Regions from separate parts of the Homo sapiens genome. Here region 1 is linked to region 2. The links come from fine-mapping of genetic effects on gene expression. A gene starts in region 2. The other region holds a variant in brackets. All regions are shown on one strand. Distances are between the middles of the regions.

Region 1 (13,982 bases), 110 kb after region 2:
ATTATTACTTTTTTTAACTCCTAGGGCTGGGTGGTGGTGTCAAGGTTGTCTGGCTATTTATCTTTTTTTTTTTTTTTCCAACTTTTTGCTTTCTCTCTTTTCTCCTGTCTTGTGAACTAGGCAAGATGGGGGGGAGGCAGCAGGAGTAGTAGTGGTCTCCTTCCTTATCCCCCACTTTGAGAATTTTCACTAATTAGTGGGAGTTCTCACTTTTATTTTTACCTTTTGAGTCTTTTTGCAAGACAGAGTGATAATGTTTTATGTAATACACTCGTGTTGAAGTTTTCTGACAAACCATGGTAGTTACAAAACCTTTTATCGTTTGAAAGAGCAAGCGTAATACACAGGGGAGCAGCAAGCAAGTTGCTATTACTAGTAATGCACTTACAGTGAGGGTTTTAAATTTTTTGTAGCTGGAAACTATTTTCTAAATAAAGACCTAGGATCAAACCTGTGTTAAACCTGTATATGCACATGTATCAACTTTGTCATGTCCTAAGCAGGTTAGTTTATTAACTGGGTCTTAAAAGCTTTTTCCTAGAGAATAACACAGTATTTTTTAATAATAGAAGATTTTAAGAGCCAGACACTTGAACTTGTGGCGTCTCTTTGGGGAAAGAGCTAGTTGAAGTTATCTTCGAGGCATTAACTCTTTTGCTTCTCAAGGCCATTGGTCTCTTATGTTAGCCTTTTTTTAAACATAACATGAAGAAACATCTAGGCTGCCAGCAATGTTTTCAGCCAGCTGAGCAAATAGGTTTTTTCCTTTTTTGCTAAAGGAGGAGGTTCTGGTAACTTCTGGTTTATATGTTTAAAGAATGACTGAAAGACTTGGAATTGTTGCTGGGCTGGATGGGTCTGGGTTTCCTAAGTAGTATGTGTACAGTGGGGACACCTTATATAGATGTTTCTTCTAGCATGGTTATGGGGGGGGTAGCAACAACAAAACAATGTACAGCATATTCATATCCAGCAAGGACAAAAGAGGTCCTTACTGGGAAAAAGGTTGAATACAGTGACAGAACAATAGGAAAACAATATTACAGGAAAACTATTAGTCTTAAGATTTTTAACTACATTTACTTGCTTGATGAGTCCTCAAGCTTCGGCTGTGCATAGACTAGTCAGCTGCCGGTGTGTGACTAGAGCAGGGCTTGTTGTCTCCTCAAGGTTCAGCCATGCGCAGACTGGTCAGCCTCTGGAGTGACCAGAGCACGGCTGTCATCCTCAGCAGCAGTTTGGTCTCATCTCAGGATCATCAGGGTTGGATAATCTGCATCCTGCTGGCTGCTACTTGTCTTGAGCTGCTGGTGTTAGCCAACTGTGGTGGATCCAAGACACCACACCTGCAACTTTAACAGCAGTGGGAGTGGACAAGGTTACAGTATAGGGCCCATGCTATATGGATCCTAGAAAAATTAGATTTTGCTTTAAACAGAGTCACTAGATTTAAAGGGGTGTCTGGCTTATAGGCATTTTCATTTATTTAATTATGAACACTTTGTATGGCTATTTTTAAAGCCTGCATTTGCTTTCTTAAGGTTAATTCCTCTTCTTCTGCGAGAAAACAACAAATGGCGGATGACACCGGTGCAGCGGGTGGGGGGGGGGGGGGCCCGGAGGCCCTGGTGGCCCTGGGATAGGGAACCGTGGTGGCTTCCACGGAGGTTTTGGCAGTGGCATCCAGAACCGGGGTCGCGGCCATGGACGGGGCTGGGGCCAAGGCCCTGGAGATCGCGGAGGCAAGGCCAAGGATAAGGAGTGGATGCCTGTCACAAAGCTGGGCCGCTTTGTCAAGGACATGAAGATCAAGTCCCTGGAGGAGATCTATGTCTTCTCCCTGCCCATTAAGCAAGGTGTGGTGGTCATGGCTAGGCCAAAGCTGGACAAAGCAAAAGGAAACCTGAGTGGAAAGCCACATCTCACCAAACAAGAGGAAAAAGGCAAATATGAAGAAACGATTGAGATGCAGAAATATGGAATCAGAGATCATTGACTCTTTCCTGGGGGCCTCTCTCAAGGATGAGGTTTTGAAGATTATGCCAGTGCAGAAGCAGACCCGTGTCGGCCAGCGCACCAGGTTCAAGGCGTTTGTTGCTATCGGGGACTACAATGGCCACGTTGGTCTGGGTGTTAAGTGCTCCAAGGAGGTGGCCACCGCCACCCGTGGGGCCATCATCCTGGCCAAGCTCTCCATTGTCCCCGTGCGCAGAGGCTACTGGGGTAACAAGATCAGCAAGCCCCACACCGTCCCTTGCAAGGTGACAGGCCGCAGCGGCTCCGTGCTGGTGCACCTTATGCCTGCACCCAGGGGCACTGGCATCGTCTCCGCACCTGTGCCCAAGAAGCTGCTCATGATGGCTGGTATCGATGACTGCTACACCTCAGCCCAGGGCTGCACTGCCACCCTGGGCAACTTCTCCAAGGCCACCTTTGATGCCATTTCTAAGACCTACAGCTACCTGACCCCTGACCTCTGGAAGGAGACTGTATTTACCAAGTCTCCCTATCAGGAATTCACTGACCACCTCATCAAGACCCACACCAGAGTCTCCGTGCAGCGGACCCAGGCTCCAGCTGTGGCTACAACATAGAGTTTTTATACAAGAAAAATAAAGTGAATTAAGCATTAAAAAAAGGTTAATTCCTTTAGTTTCTGGAGGTCACCTTTAATTTGACCTATGATTTAGGGGTGGCCGACCGAACAAAATCTTATACGGCAAATACCTAGTTTGTTTGTTGGGGGTGCACCTGACTCGGAGGAGGACCGTAGGCAAAAACCTGATTTTATCTTAAATGAATTTCCTGGCAATATTTTTTTCAGTAGCTGCTCGAGTGTCCAGTTCATGTGTTCCACCTTTTCTTGAAGTTTGTGGCCGATAGGCTGTGTGTAACTTCCATTTTATTTTTAACAGTCTTGTTAAATCTTGCACTATTTCAGCTACAAATGCTGGCCTATTGTCTAACTTTAAAGTTAGAGGTAGTCTAAACCTGGGGATAATGTCTTTTAACAGTACTCTAGTCACTTCTTGTACTTTTTCTGTCCTGGTGGGGAAAACTTTAACTTACCCTGAAAAGGTGCAAAGAAGCACTAGCATGTACCGATAGCCTCCAGCACGGGGCAGTTCTGTAAAGTCCATGAGCAAGTTTTCACAAGGTATGGCTCTTTGTCCTGTTTAAGTTTCTTAGAGGAGGGTTTCTTCCCCCCACCCGGCCTTTGTAACTTTATCTAGTGGCTTAGCCTTCAGTGAGAAGCTGGAATACAGATACGGCAGAATCTTGCTGCTTTTAACTTCTAATGTGACCATGGGCTCCTGGGAGCCTAATGAGAAGGTGCCTAGTCTGCCCTAGTCTTTACATTCTTCAGCTCCTGTCAGCCTGATCAGATCAGTATTTGGTTCCTCCAAGGTGCAGCTGCCCTTGGCCGATGGCCTCTTTGTCTTGCGGCCTTGGCCATTTCCTTTATTGCCTTCTGAACATTTACCCTTCTAGTGTCCTTTCTTTTTGCATCTCATACATTATTCTCTCTCTAGCCTTGTCTGGCTCTTGAATACTTGCCTAACTTGACTTCTTTCTTGTCTACATCCACGTCCATGTCCTCTCACATTGCTAATTTTTTTTATAAGAGCTGTTGCTAACATATTGGCTTTTTCTTCTTAAGTCTTTAATTTACTTTTTTTTTTTTTTTTTTTCTGAGTTCTCCTGCTCCTACAGCCAGCTGGTGGGGCCGGGCAATGGCACGGGCCCTGCCCCCACGCACTGCTGTCTGTCTCTCCTGTTTCCTTCTGATTCTCTTTTTCACACTTAGTCTTTCTTTTTCTTTTGCTCTTTCCCAGTTTTGTTCCTTGGTCACAGTTAACGTACACCTTGGTGGCCACTTTTATAGACTAGGTGGTATTCATGCCTGCAGCTTCTGCTTGCTGTTACCGTAGGCTTGCTTTACAAATGAAGTATTCACTATATACTGATTTTCAGCAGCCTCAGGGTTAAATGGGGTGTAAAGCCAGAATGCTGTATAGAGTCTCTTATAAAACTGACTTAGGCTCTTGCCAGCTCCTTAAAGCATTCCTGAAATCTTTTTTATATTACTTGCTTTTTTCTACCAACTCTTAACCTCTGCAGAAGTGCTTCTCAGTACCTCTGCAAACACTGAAGCTGAGTTGCATTCTCTGGGCCTTTTTTCCCCTTTTTCCTGGAGTTTAACAGGCCCTTTTCTTTATATAATTTTTCATGCACTTGGAGGGTTAAACAGGCATACTGAGAGTCAGTGTAAATGTTTACAGTCTTACCTTCACTGAGTTCTAAGACCCGAATTAAAGCAATGAGCTCAGCTTAACAACAGTGTCCAGGGTTACCACTGCATATTCTGCATATCTCTCTCCTTGTGGGTTGATGAAGCTGTATAGCTCCCAGTCTACTGATGCCCAAGGCTGGTCCCGGAGGTCAGGTCTGCTAGAGTAAACTTGAGTCCAACACCTCTGCACTGTTATGCTCGACAGGGCTCTAGCTGCTGGGAGCAAGGTGGCAGGTTCAGGGTGTTTCCAGTTTAGTAGATCAATGGTTGAAAAGGGCTGATAGATGAAAGTCTGTTGCCCCCCAAGATGTGGGCCTGGTCATTATAATAGACAGGTCCTGGTGTCTTCCTGAGAGGCATTTGCATAGCTCCAGCAAGACCAGATCTGAGACGGCCCACTTGACTATCTTGACCTTCTTCCTTGGCCTCTCGAGGCTCCAATCCTCCCCTTCGAGGTGAGACCTGGGGCCTGTTAGCTCCTGAATCTCATTTCTGAGGGGGCTGTTGGCTTCAGTAAAGGTGGGTAGGCTGGGATATGTGGAGAAATAATTTCTATTATCTTTGGTGGCTCCTGCAAAACTGGCTTCTTTTGCTGTTTCTGGGACTCCCTTTTTAACTCTGACTGCTGGCGAAGCTGCTCTTACTTTTACTTTTGGCTTTTTTGCAATAAGCTGTTAAACAGGGCTAAATTTATGCTGGTTTTGTCTATATTATATTTAACCATGAGTCAATATAAAGGAATTTAATCTAGGTACACTGGCTGTCCTCTGACCCCTGTCACCACCTTAAATACATGGCCAATTGTTCCCTGTCTATAGTTCCTTCGGTGGGCCATCCAACACCAAAAGAGGGCAATTCTAATTCACACAGAGTTCCTAACCTCTAGGGGGTTAACTTAACTCTGTAATCTCCTGTGAAACCTTTCTTAAGGTTCTGTAACATACATTTTAATAGAGTAAGTTTTGATGATTTGATGACTATCCTTTTATTTTTCTTTTTGAAAATTTTTTACACAGTTCCTAGCGGAGTGGGCTTACTTTGTGTCTGACCTATTTTTCTCTTGAGACAAAACAACATTCACACTACAAGAAGGAAAGGGTAAAAGGTCACTCACTTGTCTAATTCACACTAAATCAAAATCGAAACGAAAACCAAAGTGTTGTTAAAGGCACACCTGTTCATCAAGCAATTTAAGCCAAGTCAAAATCAGAACCAAAACCAAAGTGCCAATAAAGGCATGCCTGTTTATCAAGCAATTCAAGTCAAATCAAAATCAAAACTAAAACCAAAGAGTCAAGCAATTCAAGTCAAGTCAAAAACAAAAACCAAAGTGCTGGTACAGGCACGCCATGGGTGATCAGGCCATGCTTCCACTCAAATGGAGTGGGCAAGATCCAAAGACCAGTCTTACCAAGTTTTAGATGTCTGGACTTAAAGTGCCAGTTCCTTCCCGGTGTTCAGCTACTGCATTGATCCTCTGCGGGGGCCTGCTGTGCACTGCTCTGACAAGGCATTCCACCAGGACAAATGCCTACCTGGGAGCGCTCTCAGGATCTGCATGGCTCAAGCTGGCCAGAGTCCCCCGCAGGGATGCTCTACAGGGCAGACCTAAGCTGCCTAAGGGGCTGCCTTGGCCTTCCATTAATCCCCTCACTTCCTGGTCAGGGAACCAAGAAATGCAGCAGGACGAGCCACAGACAAAACTCCTCAGACACCGGATTAAAGAAGGAAGTGGTTTATTCTGCCGGGAGCATCAGCCGACTTGCGCCTTAAGAGCTGAGCTCCCCGAAAAAGAAATTATTGGCCTTTTTAAAGGCTTACAACTTTAAGGGGTCCACATGAAAGGGTCGTGATAAATTGAGCAAGCGTGGGAAACGTGACTGGGGGCTACATGCATCAGCTAACAGAACAAAAAGTTTTACAGTGCTTTTTTCATACAGTGTCTGGAATTTATAGATAACACAAGTAGTTTAGGTCAGGGGTTGATGTTATTATTATAACTTTTTTTAACTCCTAGGGCCAGGTGGTGGTGTCAAGATTGTCTGGCTATTTATCTCACTTTTGTTTTTTTTCCAACTTTTGGCTTTCTCTCTTTCCTCCTGTCTTGTGAACTAGGCAAGGTGGGGGGAGGAGGGCAGCAGGAGTAGTAGTGGTCTCCTTCCTTAGCACGTTCTCAGCTCCTGGGTTCAAGGCACCTGGCACAAAATGCAGTTTCTTATGTCTACTTCTTTCTACATAGACACAGTAACAGTCTGATCTCTCTTTCTTTCCCCCACAAGCTCAAGTGATCCACCCACCCTCTCAAAGTGCTGGGATTGCAGCTGTGAGCTAATGAGCCTGGCCGCTATTATCTTTTTTTTGTCTGAATTTTTAAAATTATTTTTAAAAATGGAAAAACAGCTGGATGTGGTGGCGCACATCTGTAATCCAGCACTTTGGGAGGCCGAGCTGGGCGGATCACCTGAGGTCAGGAGTTCGAGACCAGCCTGGCCAACATGGTGAAACCCCATCTCTACTAAAAATACAAAAATTAGCGGGGTGTGGTGGTGGGCACCTGTAATCTCAGCTACTCAGGAGGCTGAAGCAGGAGAGTCCCTTGAACCTGGGAGGCAGAGGTTGCAGTGAGCCGAGATCATGCCACTGCACTCCAGCCTGGGCAACAAAGAGTGAAACTCCATCTCAAAAAAAAGAAAAAAAACAAAAGTGCAATTTTTCATTCAATAAATACTTCATTCTTATGCGGTTTTGTTGCAGAAAGTGAAGTCCATGACTTTAGAATGATAGTAATTTATCAACCAAATAATCCATTTCACATAGTTTCAATAACTGCAGCAATCTCCTTGAATTGTCTGCATAAATTCTGAAACTGTGGAATTGTCATTTCAAAGGACTTGTTCTTTACTTGGACTGAATGAGTGGCACTTTTAGCATCACTGCAACATAAGGATACTTAAGAGATCTGCAACTGTCACATCTCACAGCCAAACCCAGTTTCCATTGAAAATCTACAAGCTCAGCCAGGCGTGGTGGCTCATGTCTGTAATCCCAGCATTTTTGGAGGCCGAGGCGAGTGGATCACAAGGTCAGGAGATGGAGACCATCCTGGCTAACACGGCGAAACCCCCTCTCTACTAAAAACACAAAAAAATTAGCCAGGTATGGTGGCGGGTGCCTGTAGTCCCAGCTACTCAGGAGGCTGAAGCAGGAGAATGGCATGAACCTGGGAGGCAGAGCTTGCAGTGAGCCAAGATCACGCCACTGCACTCCAACCTGGGCGATAGAGCGAGACTGT[C/CA]AAAAAAAAAAAAAGAAAAAAATCTACAAGCTCTGACCAGGCGCGGTGGCTCACGCCTGTAATCACAGCACTTTGGGAGGCTGAGGTGGGTGGATCACCTGAGATCAGGAGTTTACACCAACCTGACCAACATGGTGAAACCCCGTCTCTACTAAAAATACAAAATTAGCCAGGCATGGTGGCGCATATGTGTAGTCCCAGCTACTCGGGAAGCTGAGGCAGGAGAATCGCTTGAACCCAGGAGGCAGAGGTTGCAGTGAGCCGAGATTGCGCCGCTGCACTCCAGTCTGGGCGACAGAGTGAGACTCCGTCTCAAAAAAAACCAAAAAAACTGCATTTTGTTCTGTACTAAGAAAAACTCTTCTGCCTGCCTTGAGATGCTGTTAATCTGTAACCCTAGCCCCAACCCTGTGCCCCAGAGACATGTGCTGTGTTGACTCCAGGTTTTTTTTTTTTTTGAGACAGAGTCTCACTCTGTCTCCCAGGCTGGAGTGCAGTGGCGCCATCTCCGCTCACTGCAAGCTCCGCCTCTGGGGTTCACCACATTCTCCTGCCTCAGCCTCCCGAGTAGCTGGGACTACAGGCACCCGCCACAACACCCGGCTAATTTTTTGTATTTTTAGTAGAGACAGGGTTTCACCGTGTTAGCCAGGATGGTCTCCATCTCCTGACCTCGTGATCCGCCCACCTTGGCCTCCCAAAGTGCTGGGATTACAGGCGTGAGCCACAGCGCCTGGCCATTGACTCAAGGTTTAATGGATTTAGGGCTGTGCAGGATGTGCTTTGTTAAAAAAAGTGTTTGAACGCAGTATGCTTGGTAAAAGTCATTGCCATTCTCTACTCGCGAGTACCCAGGGACACATATACTGCGGAAGGCTGCAGGGACCTCTGCCCAGGAAAGCCAGATATTGTCCAAGGTTTCTCCCCATCTGATAGCCTGAGATATGGCCTCATGGGAAGGGAAAGACCTGACTGTCCCCCAGCCCCACACCCTTAAAGGGTCTGTGATGAGGAGGATTACTGAAAGAGGAAGGCCTCTTTGCAGTTGAGATAAGAGGAAGGCATCTGTCTCCTGCTCATCCTTGGGAATGGAATGTCTCGGTGTAAGACCCGACTGTACGTTCTATTTACTGAGATAGGAGAAAACCGCCTTGGGGCTGGAGGTGAGACATGCTGGTGGCAATACTGCTCTTTAATGCACCGAGATGTTTGTGTACATGCACATCAAGGCACAGCACCTTTCCTCAAACTTATTTATGACACAGAGACCTTTGCTCATATGTTTTCCTGCTGACCCTCTCCCCACTATTACCGTATTGTCCTGCCACATCCCCCTCTCCGAGATGGTAGAGATAGTGATCAATAAATACTGAGGGAACTCAGAGACCAGTGCCAGTGCGGGTCCTCTGTATGCTGAGCGCCAGTCCCCTGGGCCCACTGTTCTTTCTCTATACTTTGTCTCTGTGTCTTATTTCTTTTCTCAGTCTCTTGTCCCACCTGAGGAGAAATACCCACAGGTGTGGAGGGGCTAGCCCCCTTCAGAACTCAGGTGTTTGAAACCAGCCTGGGCAACAAACATGGCGATACCCTCATCTCTATTAAAAAAAAAAAAAAGACAATAGCCATAGTAAATTTTAAAAACTGTGTAGCACTGACACAAGAATAAATAAGTACCCAATGGAACAGAATACAGAATCCAGAAACAGACCTGAGTGTGAACAGAAATTTCATATATGATATAATATTTGAATTAATGAGTTGTTTAGCGGATAATCTTGAGAAAACTGACTTACAGTATGTTGGGAAAATAAAATTGGATTATAACTCACACAGTTACCACTTTCCAATAGATTAGATATCAAAAAGTCAAAGATGAAACCATGAAGCTAATAGACAAAAATTCAGAATAACGTTTTTGTTACCTTGGGGTGGGAAAGAATTTTTAAAATAGAAGATCGTAAAACCATACAGCATAGAGGGAAAATAAATGGATGAATCTGAGCAACTCGATATGAAAGACTTCAATGAGGCACATCATGGACGAAGAGATAATAACAAGGAGAAGATATGATATCTAAAACAAGGGATTTATAATTAGATTCTAGAAGATACAAGGAACTTCTGAAATTAGAAAGAAAAGAAAATACCCAACAGGAAACCTAACATAAAAAAATGGGTAAAGAATGTGAATAGTCCAACTTAAGAAGGGGAAAGCTAAGTAGCTAAAAATATGAAGAATGATGAACCTCACTAGTAATCAGAGAAATGGAAATAAATTAAAATGGCGAGATACCAATTTATATCTTTGGTAAACATTAGAAAGTCATGTCTTGGGTAACATATAGGCAAATGAGAGGCCGGGCACAGTGACTCGTGCATGTAATCCAAGCACTTTGGGAGTCTGAGGCGGGTGGATCGCCTGAGGTCAGGAGTTTGAGACCCGCTTGATGAATATGGTGAAATCCCATCTCTACTAGAAATACAACAATTAGCTGGGCATGGTGGTCCATGCCTGTAATCCCACATACTCGGGAGGCTGAGGCAGGAGAGTCGCTTGAACCTGGGAGGCAGAGGCTGCAGTGAGCTGAGATCATGCCATTGCATTCCAGCCTAGGTGACAGAGTGAGACTCTGTCTAAAAAAAAAAAAAAAAATAGAATAGAATAAAATAAAATAAAACATAGGCAAATGGGAAGTCTCATGTCCTGCTGATGGGAATTAAACAGGTATAGCACGTTGGGAAGCAACCTGGAAGTATTTAAGTAACTGTATGCTTTAAGACTCAGCAATCCTTCTAACTCTATATCTAAGAGAAACTAGCACCTAGGTCTATAAGGAGACATGTATCAGAATATTCATGACAGGACTGTGTGTGATGGTGAGAATTGGAGGCAGTCCAGATGTCCATCACTAATGCATAGATTTACTTAGGCTTGGTTTACTGATGCAAAAGAGAGAGAATAAAAATACACTGTTTTCACAAAAACAGTGAAAAGGGAGTAGGAAATAGCATAAAATTCATAGCAGAAACCCATTTTTGCAAATATACAATATTGCATTTTGTTAAATAAACACACTCTCACATACACAAACACTGATACCTTTTATATCTCCAGATTCATTTTTTTTTTTTTTTTTGAGGTGGAGTCTCTGTCACCCAGGCTGGAGTACAGTGGCACAATCTTGGCTCACTGCAACCTCCCCCTCCTGAGTTCAAGCGATACTCCCACCTCAGCCTCCTGAGTAGTTGGGATTACAGGCACTTGCCTTCATGCCTGGCTAATTTTTTTGTATTTTTGTAGAGACGGGGTTTCACGATGTTGGCCAAGCTGGTCTTGAACTCCTGACCTCAGGTGATCCACCTGCCTGGGCCTCCCAAAGTGCTGGGATTACAGGCATGAGCCACCGTGCCTGGCCTAATATTTTTAGAAATAATATGTATATTTAAAAAACAGACTAAATATACAAAACTGGGTGCATTGTAGGGGAGAGGAATTGGTGTAAGAATGGGAGATGAGGAGAAAATAATGAGACAATATAACAGAACAGGGATCTTACCCAATCAATGATTATAATGAGCAATAGGGCTGGGCGGGGTGGCTCATGCCTGTAATCCCAGCACTTTGGGAGGCTGAGAAGGGTGGATCTCTTGAGGTCAGGAGTTTGAGACCAGCCTGGCCAACGTGGAAAAATCCTGTCTCTACTAAAAATACAAAAATTAGCCAGGCATGACGGCGCATGCCTGTAGTCCCCACTACTCAGGAGGCCGAGGCAGGAGAATCGCTTGAACCTGGGAAGCAGAGGTTGCAGTGAACCAAGATCATGCCCTTGCACTCCAGCTTGAGTGACAGAGTGAGACTCCATCTCAAAATAAATAAATAATACATAAATAAATAAAGTGCAATAAACTGAGGGAGATGATTGAATCAATTTTGTGTGCCCGTGAGTGATAAGAGGGAAAAAAAGTGAAAGTATACAATACCTTTTGGGAGAAATAGAAGAGGACTGACTGGGGTGAAGATATTCACAACATAATATCAAAACTACTCCTACAAATCCATGAGACAAAGACAACTCAAGAAAAACATGTATTTTGGCCGGGCATGGTGGCTCACCCTTGTAATCCCAGCACTTTGGGAGGCCAAGGCGAGTGGATCACTTGAGGTCAGGAGTTCGAGACCAGGCTGGCCAACGCGGTGAAACCCCATCTCTACTAAAAAATACAAAAGTTAGCTGGGCGTGGTGGCTCATGCTTGTAGTCCCAGCTACTCAGGAGTTTGAGGCAGGAGAATCATTTGAACCCGGGAGGCGAAGGTTGCAGTGAGCCGAGATTGTGCCCCTGCACTCCAGCCTGGGCGACAGAGTGAGAATCCTTCTCAAAAAAAAAAAAGAAAAGAAAAAGAGAAAAATATGCTTTTTTGGCTGGGCGTGGTGGCTCACGCCTGTAATCCCAGCACTTTGGAAGGCAGAGGCGGGCGGATCATGAGGTCAGGAGATCGAGACCATCCTGGCTAACATGGTGAAACCCCGTCTCTACTAAAAATACAAAAAATTAGCCGGGTGTGGTGGTGGGCACCTGTAGTCCCAGCTACTCTGGAGGCTGAGGCAGGAGAATGGCGTGAACCCGGGAGGCGGAGCTTGCAGTAAGCCAAGATGGCGCCACTGCACTCTAGCCTGGGTGACAGAGCGAGACTCTGTCTCAAAAAAAAAAAAAAGCTTTATATATATATATAAAAAAGCTTTTATGTATATAAATATATTTTATATATATAATTTTATATTATATATAAAAATATATTTTTTATATATAAAAAAGCTTTATATATATATATATATATATATATATATATATATATATATATATATAAAGCTTTTTTTTTTGAGACAGAGTCTCACTCTGTCACCCAGGCTGGGTGTATATATATGTATATTCTCTCTCTCTCTCTCTCTCTCTCTCTCTCTCTCTCTCTATATATATATATATATATATATATATATTTTTTTTTTTTTTTTTTTTTTTTTTTTTTTTTTAGACAGTCTCACTCTGTCGCCCAGGCTGGAGTGCAGTGGCATGATATTGGCTCACTGCAACCTCCACTTCTGAGGTTCAAGTGATTCTCCTGCTTCAGCCTCCTGAATAGCTGGGATTACAGGCACAAGACACCATGCCCAGCTAATTTTTGTACTTTTAGTAGAGATGAAGTTTCACCATGTTTCACCATGTTGGCCAGGCTGGTCTTGAACTTCTGACCTTAAATGATCTGCCCACCTCGGCCTCCCAAAGTGCTGGGATTACAGGTGTGAGCCACCAGCCTGGCCTCTAGTTATTTTTTACATAATGTTCAGCATACAATAAAAATTAGGAGACATGTGAAGAGAAAGGAAAATGTGACCAATGGTCAAGAGAAAAAAGAAAACAGTAGAAGCAGAAACAAATATAAGCCAATTGTTTAAGTTCACAGGCAAGAACTTTAAAATAATCACAATTTTATTTTTAAAAAATAGAGGAAAAGATGGAAAGTAGATGAGAAGAATTTCAACAGAGAATTGGAATAGAGACAAAAACTTCTAGAACAGAACCCTCTGAATGGGTTTAACAGCAAATTGGACACAGCAGGAGACAAGATTAGTGAATTCAAAGACAGATCAATAGGCTGGGCACTGTGACTCACACCTGTAATCCCAGCACTTTGGGAGGCTGAGGCGAGTGAATCAGCTGAGGTCAGGAGTTTGAGACCAACCTGACCAACATGGTGAAACCCTGTCTCTACTAAAATACAAAATTAGCCGGGCGTGGTGGTGGGTGCCTGTAATCCCAGCTACTCTGGAGGCTCAGGCAGAAGAATCGCTTGAACCCGGGAGGCGCAGGTTGCAGTGAGCCGAGATCACACCATTGCACTCCAGCCTGGGCAATGAGTGAGACTCTGGCCTCAATACAGAAAGAAAGAGAAGGGAGGGAGGGAGGTAGGAAGGAAGGAAGGGAGGAAGGAACCAACCCATATTGAAGCACACACACGAGTTGAGCCTGAGACCTTGGTCAAGAACCAAACCTAACAATACTCTGGCTAAAGAGTGAGGGGACTGTGGGCATGGGGGAATGCCTCCCCACAGATTCCCATCCACGACCCTTGGCCTGATGACCACAGCATCTCAGTAATGCTTCTGTAGTCCAGTATCATTTCTTCTTTCTGAAATACATACATACATACATACATATATATATATATATATTTATTTATTTATTTGTTTATTTTTTGAGGCAGAGTCTTGCTCTGTCACCCAGGCTGGGGTGCAGTGGCATGATCTCAGCTAACTGCAACCTCTGCCTCCCGGGTTCAAGTGATTTTCCTGCCTCAGCCTCCCAAGTAGCTGGGATTACAGGCATGCACCACCATGC
Region 2 (16,016 bases):
CCCAGCTACTAAGGAGGCTGAGGCAGGAGAGTCGCTTGAACCCAGGAGGCAGAGGTTGCAGTAAGCCAAGATCGTGCCACTGCACTCCAGCCTGGGTGACAGGGCGAGACTCTGTCTCAAGAAAAAACAAAAAAAAAAAGAGAGAGAAAGTGTTAACAGAAAGAGGAAGTGGCTAGTAATGTTGAATACTTCTGAGAGGATGAGAAAGACAAGAGTGACCACTGAATCTGCAAAATAAGCATCATTAATGCCCTTTGAAACAAGCAGTTTTAGTGGAGTGATGAGGATAGAGACATGATTGAAGTGGGTTGAAGAGAGAATGGGAGGTATTAAATATAGTATCCTAGACTTGTTCAAGGAGTTTTGCTATACAGGGAAGCGGAGAAACGGGGCAGTATCTGGAGGTAGGAATTTCGGAGATATTAAGAAATGTATAGAGGCCGGGTGCAGTGGCTTACGCCTGTAATCCCAGCACTTTGGGAGGCCGAGGCTGGTGGATCATGAGGTCAAGAGATCGAGACCATCCTGGCCAACATGGTTAAACCCTGTCTCTACTAAAAATACAAAAAAATTAGCTGGGCGTGGTGGCGCGCGCCTGTAATCCCAGCTACTCAGGAGGCTGAGGCAGGAGAATCGCTTGAACCTGGGAGGTGGAGGTTGCAGTGAGCCGAGATCTCACCATGGCACTCCAGCCTGGCGACAGAGTGAGACTCCATCTGCCCCACCCCCCCAAAAAAAAAATGTGTAGAAAGACATTTCATATGTCTTGTGTTTTATCCATCATCACCAGTTGTCTTTTGTCTTTGTTTATAATGTATTTTGCCATTAAAGAGGTTGAACTAGGTTGGGCATGGTGGCTCATGCCTGTAATCCCAGCATTTTGGGAGGCCGAGGTGGGAGGATCACTTGAGGTCACGAGTTTGAGACCAGCCTGCCCAACATGACGAAACCCCATCTGTACTAAAAATACAAAAATTAGCCGGGCATGGTGATGGACACCTATAATCCCAGCAACATGGGAGGCTGAGGCAGGAGAATCACTTGAACCCAGGAGGTGAAGGTTGCAGTGAGCCAAGATTGTGCCACTGCACTCCAGCCTGGGTGACACAGCGAGACACCATCTCAAAAAAAAAAGAGAGAGATTGAGTTTCTTTTTTTTTTTTTTAATGTAGTCAACTTTATTCTCCTTAAACCACAAAATAGAGTCTTTGGTTGTACAAACATCACTAGTTACAGTCTCGACCAGGTCTCTGCTGGGGTGGGGCAGTTAGTCAGAGGCCAGAACTCCTGCAGGGTCTCTTTAAAATGCTAACACTCAGGTTAAAAGACTCGGGGCAAGGGTGGTGCTGGAGCTGGCAGAGCCCCCACCTCAAGTCTGGGGGACCTGCCTGCTCCTCTAGGAGGGCACAGGGCCCAGGCCACAGGGCCCAGGCCACAGCGCCCAGGCCTTACGAGGCGGCGGCTGCTACACAGCGCCACATCTTCAGGGCCCACAGCCCCGGGAGATTGAACTTTTTATCACTTTCTTTTATGATTTCCGGATTTCCTGTCTTGCCTAAAGACCTTCCCCATTTGGAGATTAAACAAATATTTTTATTTCCTTCTAATATTTGTCTTTTTAAAATTTTTATTTTATTTTTGTATAGGATGTGAGGGAAAAAACTTTTTACTTTGATTTCTTCCAGGCGTATAAGTCAACTGTGCCAATGCCAATATATTTTATTAAATAATCAATTCATTTACCACTGAACTGAGTGGTAAATGAATTTTTGAGACAGGATCTTGCTCTATCACCCCGGCTGAAGTACAGTGATGCGATTTTGGCTCGCTGCAACCTCCACCTCCTGGGCTCAAGCGAGCCTCCCGCCTCAGCTTCCGGAGTAGTTGGGACTACAGGCACGCACCATCATGACTGGCTAATTTTTTTTTTTTTTTTTTGAGATGGACTCTCACTGTGTCACCCAGGCTGGAGTACAGTGGTAAGATTTTGGCTCACTGCAAGCTCCACCTCCCGCGTTCACGCCAGTCTCCTGCCTCAGCCTCCCAAGTAGCTGGGACTACAGGCGCCCGCCACCACGCCCAGCTATTTCTTTTTGTATTTTTTAGTAGAGAAGGGGTTTCACCGTGTTAGCCAGGATGGTCTCAATCTCCTGACCTTGTGATCCGCCCGCCTTGGCCTCCCAAAGTGCTGGGATTACAGGGGTAAGCCACCGCGCCCAGCCACGACTGGCTAATTTTTGTATTTTTTGTAGAGATGGCAGTTTCACCATGTTGCCCAGGCTGGTCTCGAACTCCTGGACTCAAGCAATCCGCCTGCCTTGGCCTCCCAAAGTGCTGGGATTACAGGCGAGAGCCAATGTGCCCAGCTGACAAAGGTTTTTAAAGGCAAAATGAGGAGGCTCACATAATTGTTTTGAAATATTAATAATTATCCTTTGCTACAATAATCAATAAAGACAATGCCAGTTGGAGGTTTGACAGACAGTTGTTGGGCAGATGTCCTTGTAGATGTAATTTTTGTGTAAGGTCGTGAACAGCATTTGTGCAAGGTTGCAGTTTTTGCATTTTTTTTGTTTGTTTAATTTCAACGTTTATTTTAGATTCAGGGGGTACATGAACAGGTTTGTTACATTGGTATACTGTGTGATGCTGAGGTTTGGGGTACAAATTATGCCGTCACTAGGTAGTGAGCATAGCACCCAATGAGTACTTTTTCAGCCCGTCCCTCCTCTTTCTTTCCCCTCAAATAGGCCCCAGTGTCTATTGTTCCTATTGTCATGTCCATATATACCCGATGCTTAGCTCTCACTTATAAGTGAGAACATGCAAAGATAAAGAAAAAATTTGGCTGCAATATAGTAGGCAAAATTCATTTGCAAGGAGATCAGAAAGCCATTTGATTATAGCCTAATCCAAATAGATTTATCATTTAGTTTAATAATTTAACGAGGGGGAAGGGAATATTTCAAAAACGTTTAATGTTTATTTCTCATAGAATTAAAAAAAAAATTTATTTATGGCCGGGCGCGGTGGCTCACGCCTGTAATGCCAGCACTTTGGGAGGCCAAGGCAGATGGATTACCTGAGGCTAGGGGTTCGAGACTAGCCTGGCCAACATAGTGAAACCCCGTCTCTACTAAAAATACAAAAATTAGCTAGGCATAGTGGGCGCCTGTAATGCCAGATACTCGGGGGGCTAAGGCAGGAGAATTGCCTGAACCCGGGAGGCAGAGGTTGCAGTGAGCTGAGATCACGTCATCACACTTCAGCCTGGGCAATAAGACCAAAACTCAGTCTCAAAAAAAAAAAAATTATTTCCATAGGTTTTTGGGGTACAGGTGGTGTTTGGTTACATGAGTAAGTTCTTTAGTGGTGATTTGTGAGATTTTGGTGCACCCATCACCTGAGCAGTATACACTGAACCTAATTTGTAGTTTTTTTTATCCCTCACCACCCCCACCCACCCTTTCCCCTAAGTCCCCATTTTGCATTCTTTTGTCATAGCTTTTGTTATCAAGTATTTATGCATGAGAACCTGTTTCTTCATAGCCCTCCCTGGTTCTGTTTGTCAGGGTTTTCTTTTGTTTTGTTTTTGTCTTTTTGTTTGTTTTGGGGTTTTTTTTTTTTTTTTGAGACGGAGTCTCGCTCTGTTGCCCAGGCTAGAGTGCAGTGGCATGACCTCAGCTTACTGCAGCCTCCGCCTCCCAGGTTCAAGCGATTCCCCTGCTTCAGCCCCCTGAGTAGCTGGGATTACAGGTGAGCACCACTATGTCTGGCTAATGTTTTGTATTTTTAGTAGAATGGAGTTTCACCATGTTGGCCAGGCTGGTCTTGAACTCCTGACCTCAAGTGATCCACCCACCTCAGCTCCCAAAGTGCTGGGATTACAGGCGTGAGCCACTGCGCTTGGCCCTGTTTTTCTTTTTTAACACGAGTGTCTCCATCTTGATTCTGACAACTTTCACATATTGTTACTTAATAAATCTTATAATTTTTTTCATACAGGTTATGTACCTTTCTTGTTAATTTCTGTTTCTGTTCTTTTTACTGTCATCAGTGGGCTTCCCTATTATTTTCATTTCTAGCTAGATTTCTAGTTATAGACTGAAATTAATTTATTTTATAATCACACTACCAGATTGACTTCTTAGTTCAATACATGTCTAGTTGCATCTTATGGATTTCCTAGAAACACAATCATATTATCTGCAAATAAAGATAAGTTTCTCATCTATGTATACAGATTGTTCCTTGTTTTTGGTTAATTACACTAGCTAAATTCTTCAAATATAATACTGAATATTTTTAGCGATAATGTAAGTACTGTCTTTTGTTTTAATGACAATGGCTGCAATATTTCATATTTAATATGCTTTTTAAATGATTTTTGAAAAATAGTGTCCATTATGGTTATTTCTATTACTATTTTACTTAGAATGTTTTGTAGGAATAGCTACTAAAAAACAATTGCTTTTTTTTTTTTACATCTCCTCTTGATAGAATTACGTTTTTTCCCTGATGATATAACACATCCTGTTAGTAAATTTCCTGATACTGAACTATTCTTTCATTCCCAGAGTAAATTCTTCATGGTCATAATTTATTATTTTATTAACTCATTGTGGAATTCTCTTTTGCAAATATTTTATTTAGACTCTTTGTCTGCGTATTCATAAATTGGGTTATAATCTTTTTCTTTTTATGGTTAACACTGAAAAAGGCTTTAAATTATTCTCAAAGTGCTCACATGCCTGGGCAAAATTATTGCTATTATTAACAACGCACTGAGGATTGTGAACGATTTATTTCAAAGTAATAATTAGATGGGATTCAAAGTTTCCCATATAACAATGTCATTTCCCTTTATCTGAATCATTATTCTAGACTTTATTTAATGCTTTACTGCAGAGGAAAGAAAGGGGGGATGTGGCTTACTTTGTTGGGGATTGTGGAAAATGGGCACAGTCCTGGAAAAACCCACATTAAGTGTGCAATGCTTGTGAAAATGCCTAATGCAAGAGATTGCAAAATGTTGTCCCAGGGTACCAGGATTCTTGATGGAATAAGAAATATTAAAATAATTGGATAAACTGAGCTAGCAAAATGCAGGTGGCTGATAAATTTTAGAACAAAAGTGTAATTAAATGAGAAGCTTTGAGCTATACTCTATCTCATAAGTAGCATAATATTTCATTTGACTCTCTCTCTCTCTCTTTCTTTTTTATTTTTATGAGACATAGTCTCGCTGTGTTGCCCAGGCTAGAGTGCAGCGGCATGATCTCGGCTCACTGCAACCTCCGCCTCCGCGGTTCAAGCAATTCTCGTGCCCCAGCTGCCCAAGTAGCCAGGGTTAGAAGGCGTTCACCACCATGCTCGGCTAATTTTTGTATTTTTAGTGGAGACAGTGTTTAGCCATGTTGGTCAGGCTGGCCTCAACCTCCTAGCCTGAAGTGATCTGCCCACCTCGGCCTCCCAAAGTGCTGGCATTACAGGCATGAGCCACCACATCCAACCTCATTTGACTCTCCTGACAGTCTGGGAAGTTTAAGCAGGGAACCCAGCTGCAACTATCTAATGAATAATGGACAGTTTAGCATCTTAACTAATAAGGAATCTTGGGCTTAAGATATTCCCAACTTTATTACTGGGTTGTGACTAAGTTTCCTCTCCCACTTCCCCCCAACAAAAGGCTATATATACTCTATTAGCTTTTATATTTAAATGAAGGCAGATTGATTTTTTTTAAAAGACATTGAAGACACCCCTCAAACAAATGGAAGCACTCTGGGTTTTGGTAAAGCTGGTGTTAATCATATCTTTAGCTTCTTAACAAGGGGAAGAAATTACTTGTGGGCACTTTGGGTTTTTTTGTGCCATCAGTAATCCCCAGGGGAAAATGATACGTATATGTTTTTCCACAATCAGTTCAGGATACCAGGATATTAATGGTATACCTAAATCAACATACCAACAAACTAGCTAATGAGGTATTAATAGTATACCTATTAATAGGTAAACAGAAGTAAAATCATGTACCAACAAAACAAAGCAGTGATTGTTTAGAGAGGTGAATGGGATTTGTGCTAATTTGTAAAGTGTACTACCTTAGGCAAGCACTAGAAACAAATATTGAACACCTTAATATTTAGTTGTATATCAACTTACAGTTTACAAAGTTTTCCATACACAGGATCTCATTTGATTATTATAAAATCCCTAGGAATTAAGCAGGGCAGATATCATTATCTCAGTTGTTTACAAGTACATAAACAAGCTTACCAAAGTCAGGTAACTGTCCTGGGGATCACACAGCTAGAGAGTGGCTGGGATGTTTTAAAATTCAGATCTTGGTGAAGACAGATTCTGCGTTTTAACTCATGTAAAAGCAGAGACTGGCAGAGTTTACAACGTAGTATAATCTCACTGATTATTTGCTGAAGGTATGAATGTGTCTTGTGAGGCTATTTCAGAGTTCTTTCTAGTATACTATATAAGCCCACCCCAAAAAAACAAACTAAACAACTGAAGCCAAGTATGGAAGGTTGGGGATGGGATAAGGGGCAGGAATTATTCCCAGGAGGACTAGGAAATTCTAGACAAGGCAGCAGCTTCTGGAAATGTCAGTGTTTATTAAACATTTAAGGACATTTGGAGGTTTGAGAAGAAATATACAGAATGTAGAAAAATCCTAAGAATCCCCTGTGGCTGCAGTGCAGCCTCTTCCTCCCCCCCGCCCCCCCATTTCCCATTTGTTTTTCCTGCTTTTTGTTTGGTTGTTTAAAAACCATTTCTTAAGGCTCATTTGCCCCCTCCCCCACTCCCTGACCTATGAGGATCCATTCTCTCTCTCTGTCTCTCTCCTCAAGACCTGGAGTCCCAGAACAGTGCTCCAAAGTGGTCAGGGGGAACCAATGCTATACTGAAGTGTGAGGATCAGGGGCCCCTCTACTTGGGCTGGCTCTTCATTAAGGACTTAAGGGGGGCGTGAATTGCAAAAGCCACATGACGTCATTGGTCCTCAGTCATGGGTGTAAGGGCAGAGGATGAGCACAGGTAAACAAACAAAGAATGGATTAAAAAATAAAAAATAATAACCTAAATAAACCCTGAAGGAGAGTCTGATCTGGGTGCTCTGGGTATTAGCTGGGGGGACAGAGTATGGAGCTGGGCCACCTGGTAGAGGGGAGGGAGGGACGGGAGAGGAAACAGCCAGGGGGACAGGCTGGGGGATGCAGGAGATGGGAATGCCAGGTGGCCTGGACTTGAGGCAGAGGGTATCAAAGTCCCTTTCTTCTCAGTGCTCAGGTGGACAGGCACCAAACACACAGCCCCCGGGGCAGGTGAGGGGTAGGATTAGCTCCTGGGCTCCCAGAAAGCCAGGGGTGAAGGTGGGGGAGAATACAATTGCCTGGGGAATGAATTCTGGAATGAAACTTACATCTCAAAGGGAGGTGAGGGCAGGGCAGGGCGGGGGAGCAAAGAGGGAAAGCACCTAGACGGGGGTAAGAGGAGCCTAGGTCCCCCTGCTCTGGCAGGGCCTGGGGTGGGGGGGTGGCGATCACTTGTCCGAGTTCAGGCCCATCATGTTCTTGAGGGCGTTTTTGAGGCTGGTTCTGCTGGGGGACTTGACAGCAGGCCGGAGCTCCGGGCTCTGCTCATCCTTTCGTAGCTCCATCTCGATGACCATCACCTTTGGGCCTTTGGCGGACTCCACCCCTAACCCCCGATCCCCCGCCCGGCCCGCTAACCGCTATTTCTTATCCTTGCGAGACTCCCCCAGCCCCTTGGCCTTCTTCTCACTGACAGCTTTGGTGCTTCTGCTGTGGTCCAGCATTGCATACAGCACTGGCGTCTGGGGGAGGGGCGCACACATCAGTCACCGAGCGACTGGGGCTTGACTGTTCCCATCCCACCCCTCACTGCTGCCCGGCGGCTCCCAGGGTTCTCCTTCCCATCTTGTCTAGGCCCCAAGTCCCGCTAACCTGCCGCCCGCGCTTCGACGCGTCCTTTCCTGGCTTGTGCAATTTCCCCTTCTCCATAGCACTGCAAGAAGAGAGACTGCTGTACGTTTGGCCTCGCCGGAACCCCTTGCACCGCGGACACAGCTTCCTCTTCCCCTTGGCCCTCCCACCCACTGGAGTAGTCTCCGCCCAGATGGGGGATAGTGGGGAGAGGGGGAGGGGAGCTAGGCTCCGCCCCTTACCTGAGCCTCCTCTGCAGGGCCGCCTGCCTGCGTAGCCAGCAGTACCGAACCACGTAGAAAAGCAGCAGCAGCAACAGCACCACCCCGAGGACACCCCCGATCACAGCTCCCAGAACGACCCCGTACCTAGTTGGCACTAGGAGGGGTGGGAAAAGAAGTGGGAGAATGAGCAGGGCCCTGTATCTGTGGTTCCTAGTCCGAGTGTATGCCCTGCATTGAGGATGTAGGACTCCCAGCTAAAACTGCCTTCTGCCCACGCTCCCAGAGCCTGAATAAAGGTCCTTAGGCCGGGCTTTTTGCCTCTTCCCCCAACCTATCAGTCCTCCCTGATCCCCTCCCAAACTGCTTCCCATACCCTTGTCCCCATCCCTTCTCACACCTTTTTCAAAGACATACAGCGTGACCTGAGAGGTCTTGCCCACTATGTCTGGAGGGTTTTTGACGTCACAAGTGAACGTGCCATTGTCACTGTAGTCTAGGTTGTGTATGACAATGGAGCCATCCTTCCAGCGAGGGTCCCCTACCCACTGGATGCGCTCTTTGAAGGTCCCCACCTCGTCAATGTAGGGTTGTCCCTTGGCATAGTGGAAGATCTATGAGGAATGAGGGGAAGCATGTGAGAGGACCCTAATGAGAACACAGCTGTCAAAGCTTAGCTCCATAATTTGTTACAGAAAGAAAAAAGCAAAAAAAAAAAAAAAAAAAAAAAAGCTTCGCTCCAGCCTCAGGGTAAGGGATCTTGGGCTGGAAAGGGTAGTGCTGGAGAAGGGAGGACAATGTAGTCAGGGTGACAAAGACTGTCATTTACCTTGCCAAAGTTGGGGTTATGGCTCAAAAAGGATTTCCCCCTCCTTAGCCCAAGTTATCTTTTTTGTTGTTCTTTGAAGCACTTTCTGTTATCCAACCCCAGGATTCCCCCAGGCACTCACCGAAATGGCATCTCTGCCCCCTTCGGGCTGGTAGCGCCAGGTGAAGGAGATGTCATCTGAGACCCACTCACTGGACCAGAAGGAGCAGTGCAGGGTCACCCGGGAGCCCACAGCACCATGGACCTCCCTGTCGGTGTAAACCACGATGGCCTGGGCCGGGGACAGCACTGCAAGCACAAAGTGGGGAATCAGATGCACCTATGGGCCCAGTAAGGGATACAGAGGAAGTGAGATCAGTAGGAAATCAAGTGCTGAGTCACAGGTCAGAGGCCAATTTGGAAAAGAAACAACAAATTCTGAGCCCCAAGTCTCTGGGGACTAACTGAACAGATGAGCATAAATGCTGTGTCTGTCAAGCTCTTTAGCATGTCTGTAGAGAAGATGAAATCAGCAGTAACAGAATTCTCTTGAGGACTTCCAGAGATTGGGTTCTGTCTTTAAGTCTCACTTCTCCTTTGGGTCAGTATCTAACTTTTAAGCTATCCTTTAGATGCAGTGTTCTAAATTTTTAAAATTTATTATAAATTATACAGGTAATACATATTGTACTCTTCTTATAAACTATTCAAGCAATAGAAATAAAACAAAAGTCTCCTTTGACACTTAGCCCAACAAATTCCTTTCCTGTATTCCCTTCCAAGATGTAACAAGTTATCCATTTAATATGAATCAAACTCAGTATAAACTCAATAAACTCAAGATATACACATACTTACAACAAATAGTTTTGTGGAGTTTTTTTTTCCACATACATATTGCATTGTATTCTAGTGTCTTTTTGCTTAAGAACTTACGTATCTGGAGGAGCTTTCCCTGTTGATTCATAGATATCAATCTTATTTTAACAGCTGCATTGGATTTCACAATACAGCAAACTCAGATTTCTTGCAGAAAAAAATGAAGATAACTAGAAAATATAAGTCTTCTTCCCTGGCACAACTGTCCTCATTGCTGAATCCCTGGTTGCCATACAGCTTGCTCTTGACTGGAGAGTCAGGAAGGGAAGGGCCTCATACCCCTCTCAGCTGGGTGCAGAGCAACACCCCAAGCCTACAGCTCAGATGACCCTACATGTGAGCCCTCTATGGTTCAACTGTCCTCACCTTCCTCTTGGCCACTGTGGCCCAGTGCCATCCCCAAGACTTACCCACACAAGGAAGGTCATTCCAGAGAGACTATGTGTGTGGGCTGGCCCCAGGGAGGGGCAACTGTAGACCTTTTTGTTCTACAGGAGGGGGAGGTGGCAACCAAACAAAGTTCCATTGTCTGACCAACGCTGGGGGGCTCATGCCACCCCTACTCCCACCCCAACTGTCCTGAATCTCTCACCTCAGCATGCAATACCATGTACTTACCTTCTGGAACTTCCACCTTAGAACCTTCTTGGGAATCCCCCTTGTTTAACAAGGGAGATAATTCACTGGCTCTAACTTCTATTCCTCCTGTTACAATATCAACCATTGCCCTTCTCAGCTGTGCTCAATGGTTCTATGAGTGGAACAAGTGTTGAGACACAACTCTCCCTCTTCCTTATACATCAAGATTCCTTCCCCCTATTTCCCTCACTATGCCCTTCTCCAACTCTCTATCTTTAACATTTTCTCAGGGTACCCCCAAATAGCCCAGTACAACCCAGAAGAGTCTAGGGCTCAAGCAGCTGACAGCAGAGAACCCTGGGCATTCTGGCCAGCCCCCTTTCCCTTGATGTCCTCCCCACCACCCCCACTTGCCTATGGCTCACTCATTGCACTAGGATTCAGGGCAGTTCAGAGAAGGGAAGGGGCCATTCCAATAATCCTGCTTTGACCTCTTACTCACCCAACATCTGCCAGGGGGCAAGGAAAGGGCTGGTCAGCTTATGAAGGAAGACAGCTTTAGAGGGATAAGATCCCAGAATCTCATAGAACCTCACTCCATTCACCCACACAACAGGTGAGGAGCCATAGAGAGACAAAAAATCTGAGGAGCTGAGACCACAAACCTGGGCTCCTTACTTAGATCGCACTCTCTTTTTCCTTCTGGGAAACTAAGGTTAAGGCACCTCCTGCACTGCTAGGGGACGAGTGGGAACCAAACCCAGGTGTTTGAGCCTATTTCTTTATGTAATCTAACACTGCTTCCCACCAGGCTGTTAGCATGGCTCTGGGGGCATGCTACTATTTCCAACCTGGGTCCAGCCATGGCCACCACTCAGGGAAGCTTGCTACACTCTCTTTTACCCTTTCTTTTAAAATAAAACCTCTACTTCCTCCCTCTAAATGCATATTTTTTTCTTTTCATATATATATATATATATTTTTTTTTTTTTTGAATTTTACAGATGGAGTCTGGTTATGTTGTCCAGGCTGGTCTCCAACTCCTGGGGCTCAAATAATTATCCCACCTTGGCCTCCCAAAGTGCTGGGATTACAGGCATGAGCCACCATGCCCAGCCGCATATTTTTTCTTTCTGAATATAATGTCACCTTCCTGCTCCTGCTTGTTCTTTCTTTGGTTGCAGTGGGGAGTGCAGCAAAGGCTGTGGGGATTGCTGAGAGACACCTGAGTCCCAAGACTCCCAGAGTAGAGTGGCTCCACTTACCCAAAGAAGAGAAGAGCAGCACAGCCAGGATAGGGCTGGGGCTGGATGAGGGAGCCCCAGGAGCCATAGCTGGGGCAGGGGCAGGGGCCCGGAGCATCTGTGGGGTTGAGAAAGTGGGGGACCAGGAACTGAACGGGGGGTTCCTGGAACCTGCTTAAAATCCCCTAGGGCCCCAGCATGAGGGGGCTGTCCTCAGCCAGTAACCAATTGCAGCCTGGCATGTGCAGTTGAGAGGTGGTGGGGAGGGGGGCAGAGTGCAGGGAGCAGAAGGGGCATTGTATAGTCTGGGTGGAGGGGTGGGGGGACACATACCACCCCATACACAGAGGGCTTTGTGTCCACTGGCCTCCCCCTGCCCCAGGCTGGAATGTTGTGGGGGGTGGTGAGGGAGAGGGACAAAAACAGGGACACAGACACACTTCTCTGAGGGATAGATATGGAACCTCAATTTAAAGGCCATAAAAAGGGATTTCTCCTCAGCCTCCTTGCCTGAGAGAGGCTGCCTCACAGCCCTAGGAACTAGAGGGAGGTTTCCCCCAGAGAACTCTGAAAATAGGATATCCCCTGTTATCTCCTCTAATGTGGGCTGCATTACAGACTTCTTGAGATGACCAAGTCCTATGGGAGTTTTTTTCCCCGCACCTCCCTTCATCCTGTGCGATTCTTCCCAGACAGAAGTTTTTCTCCACTGGACTATTTCCAGGCAAGAAGCCCCTGACCTTTCCGTTTGTCAAGAAGTCCTTCAGTGCTTCATGCTGCTGTTTAAGTCCATTTCAATTTATTTCAAGGCTACAAAATTGTATTAAGTGCCAGCAATATGTAAAGTATGAGAATGCAGGTAATAGAGAGAGGAATAAAAATTAAGTCCTTCCAGCAAGGAGTTGAAAATTTGGTTTGGGGAGGTGGAGATGGGAAGATCAGAGGACAAACCCATCAACAATCAAGTATAATAAGCCATGACACTTCCTTTAGTAATGAACAAAATGCTGGGAGTACAAAAGAGGGGCACACACAGCTGCAATATCAGGAAGACTAAGTTATATGAGAGATTAAAGACAAAATAAACTTTAATAAATGAAGTTTATGCCAGGCATAGTGGCTGACACCTGTAATCTCAGCACTTTGGTAGGCTTATGCAGGAGGATTGCTTGAGTTTAGGAGTTTGAGACCTGTCTGGGCAACATAGCAAGACCTCGCCTCTACCAAAATTTTTTAAAAAATCAGCTGGGCATGTTATCACATGCTTGTAGTCCCAGCTACTTGGGAGGCTGAGGCAGGAAGATCGCTTGAACCTGGGAAATCAAGGCTGCAGCGAGCTATGATTGTGCCACTGCTTTCCACCCTGGGCTACAGAATGAAACTCTGTCTCAAAAATAAATAAATAAATAAATAATCAAACAAATAAATAGTTCAGAGGGAAGAATAGTTGTGTCTAGGAGGCAATGTTAGATATGAATCAGCCTTGAAGGATGACTGTCATTTTGGAAAGGGAGATAGGGAGGGTTACCAGAAGATAGAACAGCAAAAGCAAGGACAAAGAGGTGAGACGGAGAGACAGAATGTGTGTGTGTGTGTGTGTGTGTGTGTGTGTGTGTGTGTGTGTGTGTGTGTGTATGTATATGAGATGTAGGTTTCTGAAGTGTTGGATATATTCAGGGCCGATCTTGTGCCATCCACTTTGACTTGATTTGGGGAAACTTGAAGTGGCATAGTCAGAAATGAGACTGGACAGGAAAGTCGAAACCAGTTTGTGAAAGGCCTTAAATGACAGGTGAAAGAAGGTGAATTCAATTTGGTACATCATGAGAACCTGAAGGTGTTGGGGTGGAGTTAGCCATGGGGATGTCTACATAACCAGAGCTGAGGTTTTTTTGTTTGTTGAGGCAGTCTCGCTCTGTTGCCCAGGCTGGAATGCAGTGGCATGATCATGGCTCACTGCAGCCTTGACCTCTGAGGCTCAAGCAATTGTCCTACCTCAGCTTTCCAAGTAGCTGGGAACTACAGGCGCATGCCAGCATGCTGGGCTAGTTTAAAATTTTTTTTTTTTTTTTTTCAGAGATAAGGTCTTGCTCTGTGGCCCAGGCTGTAGTGCAGTGGTGCAATGATAGCTCACTGCAGCCTCAACCTCCCAGGCTCAAGCGATCCTCCCACTTCAGCCTCCAGATTAGCTGAGCCACAGGCAGCCACCACCATACCCAGCTAATTTTTCAATTTTTTGTAGAGATGAGGATCTCACTGTGTTGCTCAGGTTGATCTTGAACTCCTATACTCAAGTGATCCTTCTGCCTTGGCTTCCCTAAGTACTGGGATTACAGGTGTGAGTCACCGTGCCTGACCTCTAGAAGTTAATGTAAGTGGGGTGGTCATTGTTATTCCTGCTATGAGACCACTGCAGGCTCACCCAGGTGAAGGACAGTGTCCTGGTACCTTCCTGGCATCTCATTAGACCACAGCCCTGGTGGGTATGGTCATTAGTATTAGATTTGGGTTGTGGAATTCTAAATATGGGATTGCTTATGAAGTCCATAGGCAAAACCATCATCATTGACAAATGTTTACAGGATGTTGTAGTCAACATTTCTATAAAACAGCAATTCAAAGTACAAAAAAAAAAAAACCCCCAAAACTCTCCCCTCCAAAATTTCCACCTAACTCCACCTCCCAACTGTAAGCAATCATTTCCTCTTTATCTAACCACCCCTTTTATCAACACCCTCTTCAATGGGTTGTTGCTACTTTCTTTGTTGCATGTCTTTATTGATCCTGCTAAGGCTATAACCTTCTTGGGGACAGTACAAACATCTGTATCTTTGAATCCCCTACAGAACTTTTCACGGACTGACAAAAAGTCCATAACTACATGCTAAATGAAATTATTAATATTTAAAGAGCTGAGTGGGCTGGGAGTGGTAGCTCGCACCTATAATCCCAGGACTTTGGGAGGCCGAGGCCGGTGGATCACTTGAGGTCAGGAGTTCTAGACCAGCCTAGCCAACATGGTGAAATTCCATCTCTACTAAAAATACAGAAAATTAGCCGGGCATGGTGGTGCAGGCCTGTAATCCCAGCTACTTGGGGGGAGGCTGAGGCAGGAGAATCGCTTGAACCTGGGAGGCAGAGGCTGCAGTGAGCTGAGATAGCGCCACTGCACTCCAACCTGGGCGACAGAGTGAGACTACGTCTCAAAATAAAAGAAAAAGAAAAAGAAAAAGAAAAACCAAAAAAGATCTGAGTGAAAAAGGCATTCCTTGGGTTTGTTAACGTGAAGCTCCAGAGAGCCAAGTCAATGACTGGAATTTCGATAGCACAAAACTGTATTTAAATATAATAACTAACGAATAAGTTGTTCATTAAATAAAACTTGTTGTTTGAGGTACCCATCATTGAATATGGGGGGGTAGAGTCTTGAAGATCAGCTGTTATGGGTGTTGCAGAGGAGATCCCTGCATAGATAGTAGATTGGATTAGAGAGCCTCTTTCAATCCTAAAGTGTACGAATGTGCTTTGTCAAGCATTATAGAAATGCAAAGTAGTATTATTCATCTGATGCAGAAATAAGTGAATTTGTGCTATTTAAATCCTGAAGTGCAGGGATGCTAAATATACATAAGATCTGAATATTAATATAATTGAGTATTTTTTTTGTAGAAATAGGAGTTGCTCTAGCCTGTCCCTTTTACTCCTCTCCACCCTACTCCCCACAAGAGTCAAGAACTTTTGTGCTCTGTTCCCTTCCTTTATCATTTGCTCTTCTTCTTTCTTCAGTCTTGAGTGCTCGGCAGTTGATTCCTGTGCTTGGGTTCCCTAAAACTGTATATATATATATACACATATATAAATCAAAGCGTGTTCTTCCCCTCACTCCGGGTTCTTCTAGCTGTGGGTGTCACCCACATAGCGCTGAAACAACGAACAAGGGAGCATTGTCCTCGGCTAGTGGGCGCCTGGTCCATGTGGCAGCTCAAACCCAGGAATTGTGGGGTCTAATCGAGGTGGTTAGATGAGGCTCCTCGTTTTCGGGAATGGTGGTCCGCAAGGTCTTCTCGAGGCCCCTCTACACACTCCCCAACTTAGGTCACAATTTATGTATCTGTCTGGTTAAAGCTTCGTATTAGAAAGGGAGGGAACCCAAAGTATCTTTTCTCTTCGGGGTCTCAACCGGCCAACCACCACGTTTTTAGGCCGACCTGGGAGGCAGGGGGAACGCAACAGACTGCGAAGTCCTTAAGGAAGAATCTAAACAAGTCCGCCGTTTGCTGTTTGGGAGTGCGATACAAAATGAATATGTACGCAGGTGGAACGT

Evidence for each region. PIP is the estimated chance that this variant, and not a neighbour inherited with it, causes the effect.
Region 1: its variant is fine-mapped to the expression of MPZ in whole blood (INTERVAL, PIP above 0.99).

The regions. Positions count from the first base shown.
Region 1 is chr1:161,404,494-161,418,475 of GRCh38, forward strand. It overlaps the pseudogene LOC148430 and the pseudogene COMMD6P1. Among named protein-coding and RNA genes, the nearest start is that of TRE-TTC4-2, 11 kb to the right of the region's middle. The variant C/CA (reference allele first, on the strand shown) is at 7,587.
Region 2 is chr1:161,298,126-161,314,141 of GRCh38, forward strand. It overlaps MPZ (myelin protein zero), which reads right to left and starts at 11,843. Exons shown (of 6, transcript NM_000530.8): 1 at 11,714-11,843; 2 at 9,133-9,299; 3 at 8,583-8,796; 4 at 8,204-8,339; 5 at 7,983-8,043; 6 at 6,610-7,852. The coding sequence starts at 11,780. The coding sequence ends at 7,751. RefSeq lists an enhancer at 15,832-16,016.